2 separate regions of the Homo sapiens genome follow, and region 2 is linked to region 1. The links come from fine-mapping of genetic effects on gene expression. A gene starts in region 1. The other region holds a variant in brackets. All regions are shown on one strand. Distances are between the middles of the regions.

The links. PIP is the estimated chance that this variant, and not a neighbour inherited with it, causes the effect. A credible set is the group of variants that fine-mapping cannot tell apart.
Region 2: its variant is the best candidate, but not a certain one, in a credible set for the expression of RAB1A in whole blood (INTERVAL, PIP 0.90).

What each region holds. Positions count from the first base shown.
Region 1 is chr2:65,127,714-65,132,109 of GRCh38, forward strand. It overlaps RAB1A (RAB1A, member RAS oncogene family), which reads right to left and starts at 2,393. Exons shown (of 6, transcript NM_004161.5): 1 at 2,180-2,393. The coding sequence starts at 2,202. RefSeq lists enhancers at 1-137, 1,661-2,175, 2,172-2,431, 2,176-2,689 and silencers at 1,992-2,041, 2,542-2,891.
Region 2 is chr2:65,150,575-65,154,970 of GRCh38, forward strand. No RefSeq gene overlaps it. Among named protein-coding and RNA genes, the nearest start is that of RAB1A, 23 kb to the left of the region's middle. The variant C/T (reference allele first, on the strand shown) is at 2,355.

The DNA of each region.
Region 1 (4,396 bases):
TGAAACTCCGTCTCAAAACAATAAATAATTTTTTTTTTGAGACGGAGTCTTGCTCTGTCGTCCAGGCTGGAGTGCAGTGGCCAGATCTTGGTTCACTGCAAGCTCCACCTCCCGGGATCACGCCATTCTCCTGCCTCAGCCTCTCGAGTAGCTGGGACTACAGGTGCCCACCACCACGCCCGGCTAATTTTTTTGCATTTTTAGTAGAGACGGGGTTTCACCGTGTTACCGAGGATGGTCTCGATCTCCTGACCTCGGGATCCGCCCGCCTCGGCCTCCCAAAGTGCTGGGATTACTGAGGTGAGCCACCGCGCCTGGCCTATATCTAAACTTCTTAAGCGCAAGGATTATATTCCTAAATCCTGGTACTAATAGAATGCCTTTCATGAAAATGATGCATACCACCTGAAGAATGCTCACACGGTTTTTCAAATTCTTTTATATACATTTGAATTTCACCACTACCCTGACAGGAATAATGACTCCAATTATCCTATTTTACAAAAGGGAAAAAAAATTCAGAGGCTGAGTAACTTGTCAAAGTTCTCAACTAATCTTGAAGATTTATTTACACTAATAAACATATATATAGCAAATTCAGAAAATTTCCTGAACAGTAGAGGTCTATAAACCTCGATAAAGCAGTAAATCCATGTTCTTTATTGTTACCAAGAAAACTACTAAATTAAGAACCTCAAGTTCACCTCCGTTCAACTGTGCAAAACCAACTTTGTCCTTGGAGCCCTTGAAAAAAAATTTTTTTTAAACTGTCAACACAGCAAATGTCACTACAAGAACACTACCCTCAACTTCTAAAACATGAAATTCTAATAAAATACTACGGTTTCTGTTTAGTGCAAAAGATTTCAGCTTCAAGCCACACTATTACAAAACTTGTAAGCATTTTGCAAGAGCCATGTGACACACATATGACAGTCAGCTAAACTGGTGGGTGGACCTTTTAGGGGAAAATGTCTAGCAGTAATTGACCAAACCAGCAAATAAACTCAACTTTTACAACAAATACTGATGTTCCCCCATCCCTCAAAGGCCTTTGACACTGAAAAGGAATACCAATTCGGTCTCTTCCAATTATTCATTACTTTACATGCATGTAAACTGTAGAGGAAATTTTTAAAGGGCCATTGAGGAGAGCCCAACAAACTCTACCCAAGGGAAGTGAACACCAGTTCCCAGGAAAGGTGCCAGGTGTGTCACATCTGCTGTGGTGACTTCTTGAGTAAGCAAGAAAAAGAAATGCATTAACTTTTCATGACACGTCATGGAACCTCATTCCCTATCTGCAAGCATCCAAGCAGGTAATCCAAAACCTACATACAGATCTATCATAGGTCCCGTTCGTTTCTCTTTCAACTTGACAGCAAGCTTCCTTTAATCTGCGAGTATCAAAAAGACATTTCTTGGCTTTAGTTTTTTTTTTTTCCCTTGACCCACAGAAGACAAAATGACTTAGGTGTCCTCTTTAAAAAAAAAAAAAACAAAATTCTCACAAATGCCCAGGTTTTTATAGGAGGGCAATGGACCCGGCGAGCTCTTAAACAACTCCTCCAAGACACAACTCAAAAAGAGAACTAATAAATGTTCAGTTGCTTCTCACCATCTACTCATTCCCCTCAATCCCACGCAGTCCCGAAAAGCATCCATATTACCTGAAACCTGGCGGGGAGGATGGAAGGAGAGAGAGCCAACAAGCTCAGGATTTACAAGTAAAGCTGGTTTCTACCCCGAAGATCCTGACAGCTCCGCAGAGTGCGGGCGCAGGGTCTGACAGTGCCCTCTAGAAGGGCTCTCCCACCCCATCCCCTCCCCTTAGAGACAAGTCCTCCTTCAAAAGTCACTGCCTCCGAGAGAAGATACCCCTTCACACCGCCCCAGGCCCCTCGGCAGGCTTCCTCAGCACCCGCCCCGCAGTCAGGCCCTCTAACCTGACCCGGTCCAGGCCCGGGCGGCTCACCCCTCCGGCCCGACCCCTCCCCCGCGCGGCCGCCCCTCCGCGTCAGACAATGGGGCCCGACTCCCGGCCGCCAGCCTCTCCTGACCCATCACCCTCGCCTCACCCCAGCCGATGCCCCGACTTCTGCCCCAACCCTCCTCGACCCCTTTAAGATCCCCCAAGCTGGCCCACGGACCCAGCCGACCGGTGCTCTCCTGAACTCACTATTCGGGATTCATGCTGGACATGTCACTGCAGCTGCCGCCGCCGCCACCGCCGCCCTTGCTGCCGCAGCCGCCGCCCTGACTCTCCGCGCCACGGGTAATCGAAAGAAAGGAATGAGATAGGCTGTTCCGGGAGAGCAAACGTCTTCCCCTACTCCGTCCCCTAGAACACAATCAGCAGCCGCCGCCACTCAGCTATCGCTTCCACCCAAAATGGCCGCCGGCGAACCAGGAAATAGGGAAGCCTTAGACCGAGGGGCCTTTACACGGCCCAGAGGGCGGCCGCACCGCCTGGCATGCCGGGAAAGGGAGTCGCGAGCGCGGCTACGCGAGCTGAGGACAGACAGTGCGACGCAAGGCCAGGACTCAGCTTCCCGCCAAGCGCCGCGCCTCTGGGGCATGCGTACCTGAAGGGTTGTCGCCCGCCCCATTCCCCACTCCCTCACCTCCCCACCCTCGGCCCCTCCCTGCTCCCCTCCCCTCTGACTCGCTGGCTAGGACTTCGCTCGGACTCCCCCTGGCGGATTGGCTAAGGCCGAGCTGCCCTAGTGATGTCATCAGTGAGACGTGGCAGCCGGGCGAGTCAGCGCCCCACGGGGGAGGGGGCGGAGAGGGGCGGAGGGTGGTGCCGGCGGCCGACGGAGGCTGGGGGTCGGGGGAGGCAAGGGACCGGGGGGAGTGGTCAAACCGGAGGGACTGCCGGGGGTGCGGGGGCGGGGAGGGGGCCGGGGTACGAGCGTGTCGGCTCCTGCCTCCGTTGCGGCTGTTGCTGACCTGACCAGCTTGAGGCTTGCGCCACCCTGGTGGCGCTGGTTGGGGGCTGGTAGGAGGACGTCCGCTCTAAGAACAGAAGGGAAGTCAAGGGGCTCCCTGGACGGCACGGAGCGGTTCTTCTCGTCACTCACCCATCCCCACCTGGGTTCGGTCATCGTCCATTGTTGGCCCCGCGCACTACCATTTTCTTCTTAGATTTCTTCCCATTCTTACTGTGCCCCGCTCTTAACTCGTCAGCCTGGCTATTGCAGTAGTCTCCAAATGGACTCTACCTCTCTCTCTCCTCTCCGCCCCAGCCCATTTGCACACACAGTCGGATGTATCTTTCTGAGACAGCACCTGCATCGTGACCCCACAACCTTCAATGGCTCCACATCCCATGGATGGGAGGGACACAGCCCAGAGCCAGCCTAAAATCCAATTCCTACCTTCGTCCCGGCCTTCAGGTTGAATTGTAATGTATTATCTTTTAGTTGCTACTAACCCTGAGCCATTCTGCAAGACTGGAAAATAATAAGCAATAAAAATAGGCAATTCATCACTATATAGTGCCTACAATTTCTGGGAGTAATATTAACTCATTTTTAAAAAACCTATGGCCTTAACAGCTCTCTTTAATCAGCTCAGGAATTTAAATCTCCGCTAAACTTTAACACATTATCTTGAGTTATTTAATTACAAAGGGCATAGTGTAATACATTGTCCAAAGTTTATCTTCCAACTTCTAAGAACTAAGAAAATTGTCTCCTGAGACTTACTGCAGAATCACTTTAAATTCCTACAACGCCAAAATATAGAAAGAAGGCACTTATTTCTACCCATACACTAATTACACCCCTTAGCCCTCAAATTCTGCCATGGGCCTTAGTTGATGAACTTATCAAAAGTTACCCGAGTTTGGTTTCTGAAATGAACATGTTGGTTTCTGAAATGAACACGGTCACCACCCCAGGAATACCCTGAATGGTTCAGTAATAGGCACCAAAAAGTGTTCGTTACCCTGGACTCTAAAGCCCATTAAAAAAAAAAAAAGCTTATTTTGATTTCAAATAAAAACTCAGAAAACTGGCCAGGCTCGGTGGCTCATGCCTGTAATCTCAGGAATTTGAGAGGCCAAAACGGACAGATCACGAGGTCAGGAATTCAAGACCAGCCTGGCCAACATGGTGAAACACTGTCTCTACTAAAAATACAAAAATTAGCCAGGCATGGTGGCGCGTGCCTGTAATCCCAGCTACTCGGGAGGCTGAGGCAGGAAAATTGCTTGAACCCGGGAGGCGGAGGCTACAGTGGGCCGAGAGGCCACTGCACTCCAGCCTGGGCGACAGAGCAAGATTCTGTCTTGAGGGGAGAAAAAAAATCTCAGAAAACTGTGACCTGAGTCACTAGTAAAGGCACACACACACACACACACACACACACACCCCCAAAAAACCCTCAGAAA
Region 2 (4,396 bases), 23 kb after region 1:
TTACAGGCATGGGCCACTGCACCCAGTCTGGGGAGTTAACTTTTAATGGGTATAGAGTTTCTCTTTGGGATGATGGAAAAGTTCTAGCAATGGATAGTAGTGATGGTTTGTACAAAAATGGGAAAGTACTTAATGCCGCAGAACTGTATACTTACTAGTTAAAATGATAAATTTACGTTATATGTATCTTACCACAATAAAAAATCAAATCAAACATTCAGCAATATATACTGTACATAAAAACATGCAACCTTAATATTTCATTCACCAAAAGCTCTTTTCTGTGTGATATCCATGGACATACTCACTGTTCCTTGGAATTTTATCTAATATGTTTCCAAATGTCCTGCTGGACTGCACTATAGTCAATCCAGTGATTTCGGTCATCCCTGAAATCCAATTGCTTAGGTAAGTCATTCCCATGGGAACTCACTGAGCTCATTCTGACATTCAGAAGAAATTGGCCCTCTTTATTCTTTTTTTCTGAGTCCCAACCTTGAATTTAGTTCATTAACATCAAAAATCATTCAGATCATTAGGAGTTGAGAATTAATATTGTTTTTCTCATCGACTGGGAAAGCAAGGTACAAGCAGCACCCCACTTCTTTCCTTTGCACAAAATCTTATTAATAAACGTTTGACACTATGTCTGTGAAATTGATTTGTTCTGTTGGTAACAGAAAAAATTGAGTGTGTCTCTAGTAGAGTGCATTGTGCACAAAATTATTCTCTATACTACTCAAAGTTGCAAAAGAGTTGTCACGCAACTCATGTGGGATGAAGTGCAGTCAATATTTAAATGCATATAAGTCAGGGCATTTGTTGCCTGGTGGCTATAGATGGCATAGTCCCCCTTCTTCTACCATGAACCCCTACACCTAAGTCAGTATCAGTTAACATATATGGATTCATATGTAAGGGAGTTTTTATTTTGAAACTGAGAATGTGGAGAGAAAGTCATTCCCACAGGAACTCACTGAGCTCATTCAGAGAAGGGGAGAAGCTGAAGTTAAGGAACTGGAGAATGGGAAGAGAGCAAAAGGATCCTACCTCCTTCCTTGGACTGGTTTTGAGCTCACTTGTGAGGGTTAGAGGCAGACGTTGATGGAATTATTCAAGAGGGACTTTGAGAGACCTGTCAATAACAGAGAAGGAAGAGGAAGAGGCCCCTTTCTCCCACTTCTGTTTGTCCCAGCACTGTTCTTGGACTCTGAGACCCGGAAGCATTAAGGGTACCCAGAGACCACAGCTTGGGGGTAGTAGCACCATGAGGCCACAGACAGCAACTGTGGATGAAGAGGATCCAAATCTGGAGAAGACGCAGGTGGGTGGCGGGGGCAGGGGGCAGGTCATGATGGGCACTAGGAAGCACCCCTTTGGCTATTCCAAATAGTAATGCAGGGTCACTGTGAAGGGAAGGAGGAGAGAATCTCTTATTTTTTAGGTTTTTAACCTTTTATTTTAAAAAATTTTGTAGACAGGATCTCGATATGTTGACCAGGCTGGTCTCAAACTCCTGGCCTCAACTGATCCTCCTGCCTCAGCCTCCCAAAGTATTTGGATTACAGACATGAACCACTGCACCCAGCCTGAGAGTCTCTTTATGAGTACAGCAATTCATAAAAGCCAGTAGATATTGAATTACACACAGATAGCTTTATTTAACCCCTATAATAATATCCTGTGAAGGTGGTATTATTATTATTATTATTTCCACTTTACAGATGTGGAAAGTGAGCCTCAGAAAGGTTAAGTAACTTTCCCTAGGCCACATGGCTCCCAAGAAGCAGGGCTGAGATTAGAACCAAAGTATATTTGACCCTAAGACCCATGTTCTTAACTGCTGTGCTTTACTGCTTCCTAATGTAGAAAACAAGGACAGGCCAGGCGCCGTGACTCATACCTGTAACACCAGCACTTTAGGAGGCCGAGGCGGGCAAATGACTTGAGGTCAGGAGTTCAAGACCAGCCTGGCCAACATGGTAAAACCCCATCTCTACTGAAAATACAAAAATTAGCCAGGCATAGTGGCATGTGCCTGTAATCCCAGCTACACAGGAGGCTGAGGCAGGAGAATCATTTGAATCCGGGAGGCTGAGGTTGCAGTGAGCCGAGATTGCACCATTGCACTCCAGCCTGGGTGACAGAGCAAGACTCCATCTCAAAAAAAAAAAAAAAAAAAAAAGGAAAACAAGGACAGGTTTGGAATGTCAGAATTCCAAATGCTTTTAGTTGCTCCATTTTAGACTTGTCCCGGCTGACTTGTAGTCTTTCTTTTAAGTTCATACATTCAATATAAGTATGTGACTTTCTTTTGTATCCTACAATAGTACTTAAAAAATGTTCAGGCCGGG[C/T]GTGGTGGCTCATGCCTGTAATCCCAGCACTTTGGGAGACCGAGGCGGGTGGATCACGAGGTCAGGAGATCGAGACCATCCTGGCTAGCACAGTGAAACTCCGTCTCTACAAAAAAATACAAAAAAAAATTAGCCAGGTGTGGTGGCGGGCGCCTGTAGTCCCAGCTACTCGGGAGGCTGAGGCAGGAGAATGGCGAGAACCCAGGAGGTGGAGCTTGCAGTGAACCGAGATGGCACCACTGCACTCCAGCCTGGGTGACAGAACGAGACCCTGTCTCAAAAAAAAAAAAAAAAAGCTCAGCATTAAAGTGGGAACCAACAACTTATCCCACGCCATTTTCAGATAATGTTGTTTAAAAATAAATGCCCTCTAAAGCAGCAGGCCCCAACATTTTGGCACCAGTCACCAGTTTCGTGGAAAGCAATTTTTTCATGGACCAGAATGGCGGGGTGGATTGATTTGGGATGATTCGAGTACATTACATGTATTGTGCACTTTATTTCTGCTATTATTAATATTACATTGTAATGCATAATGAAATAGTCATACAAGTCACCATAATGTAGAATTAGTGGGAGCCTTGAGCTTGTTTTCCTGCAACTAGACAGTCCCATATGGGGATGATGGGAGACAGTGACAGATCATCAGGCATTAGATTCTCATAAGGAACGTGCAGTCTAGATCCCTTGCATGCACAGTTCACAATAGGTTTCATGCTCCTATGAGAATCTGATATCACCACTGATCTGACAGGAGGCAGAGCTCAGGTGGTAATGTGAGTCATGGGGACAGACTGTAAATACAGATGAAGCTTTGCTTGCTCACCCGCCACTCATCGCCTGCTGTGTGGGCCAGTTCCTAATAGGTCACAGACCAGTACCAGTCCACAACCTGAGGATTGGGGACCCCTGCTCTAAAGTATAATTGTGAAAAAATTAAAGAGTATTTTCATTCACCTCTCACTTTCTTTATCACCTGGAAGTGTATATAATTCATGCACCAATTTGTCTGAAAAGTCTGAATGCAAACTTCCTGAGATGAGGGGCCTTATTTTACTCTCCGTTGTACCTCTGGAGCCCAGAACTGTGCCTCCAGTAGAGTAGATGCTCAATACATACTTGTTGAAGGAAGAAATGAGTGAGTGAATGTATCCAGACTATGTGAAGAAAAGGGGAGGAAGTGTTTTGGACACACAGAATGAATGGAACTAGCAAGCCTATCTGGCCCCTTGGGAGTTATAGTCACTACCTCTGGGGCCTGGCCTGTGCTTTCGTGCAAATTCCTTGTCCAAGTGGCCCAGCTAATTGTCATAGCTGCCTTAGGCCCCAGCATCTTGCATTTTGAAGCCTAGCCTATGGAAGAGTTCTCCTTGAGTCAGAAGCCCACTGTGGGGCCAATGAATATGCTCCCCTCTCGACTCCTCACAAAAGTCCTGAATGGAGGACCGTGGAGGAGTATGATCAGTTTCAGCTATGAGGGGTTATCAAGTAAGGCAGATACCATGGTCCACATGTCCTCTACTTCACTCATTAAACTGAGGTTCCTGGACCAGCAGCATCAGCATCACTTGGGAGCTTATTAGAAATGCAGATTCTCAGGCCTACCCAAGACCTATTGAATCAGAATCTGCATCCTAACACAATCCCTGAGTGATTTCTAGGAACATGAAAGTTTGTGAAGCCCTGTTATACAATAACACTCTTGCAACATTCCTGCCAGACACCAGGTAGCTTTTTGATATTACCTTTTACCTTGGTAGTACATTTTTAGGCTCTTATTTTGCCTCTTTTTTAATTCTTACTTTTATTATTTATTTGTTTTTGTTTTGGAGAGATAATCTCACTCTGTCACCCAGGCAGGAGTGCAGTGGCACAATCTCGGCTAACTGCAACCTCCACTTCCTGGAGTCTTGCTCTGTTGCCCAGGCTAGAGTGCAGTGGCATAATCTCGACTCACTGCAACCTCCACCTCCCCAGTTCAAGCGATTCTCTTGCCTCAGCCTCCCGAGTAGCTGGGATTACAGGCGCCCGCCACCATGACT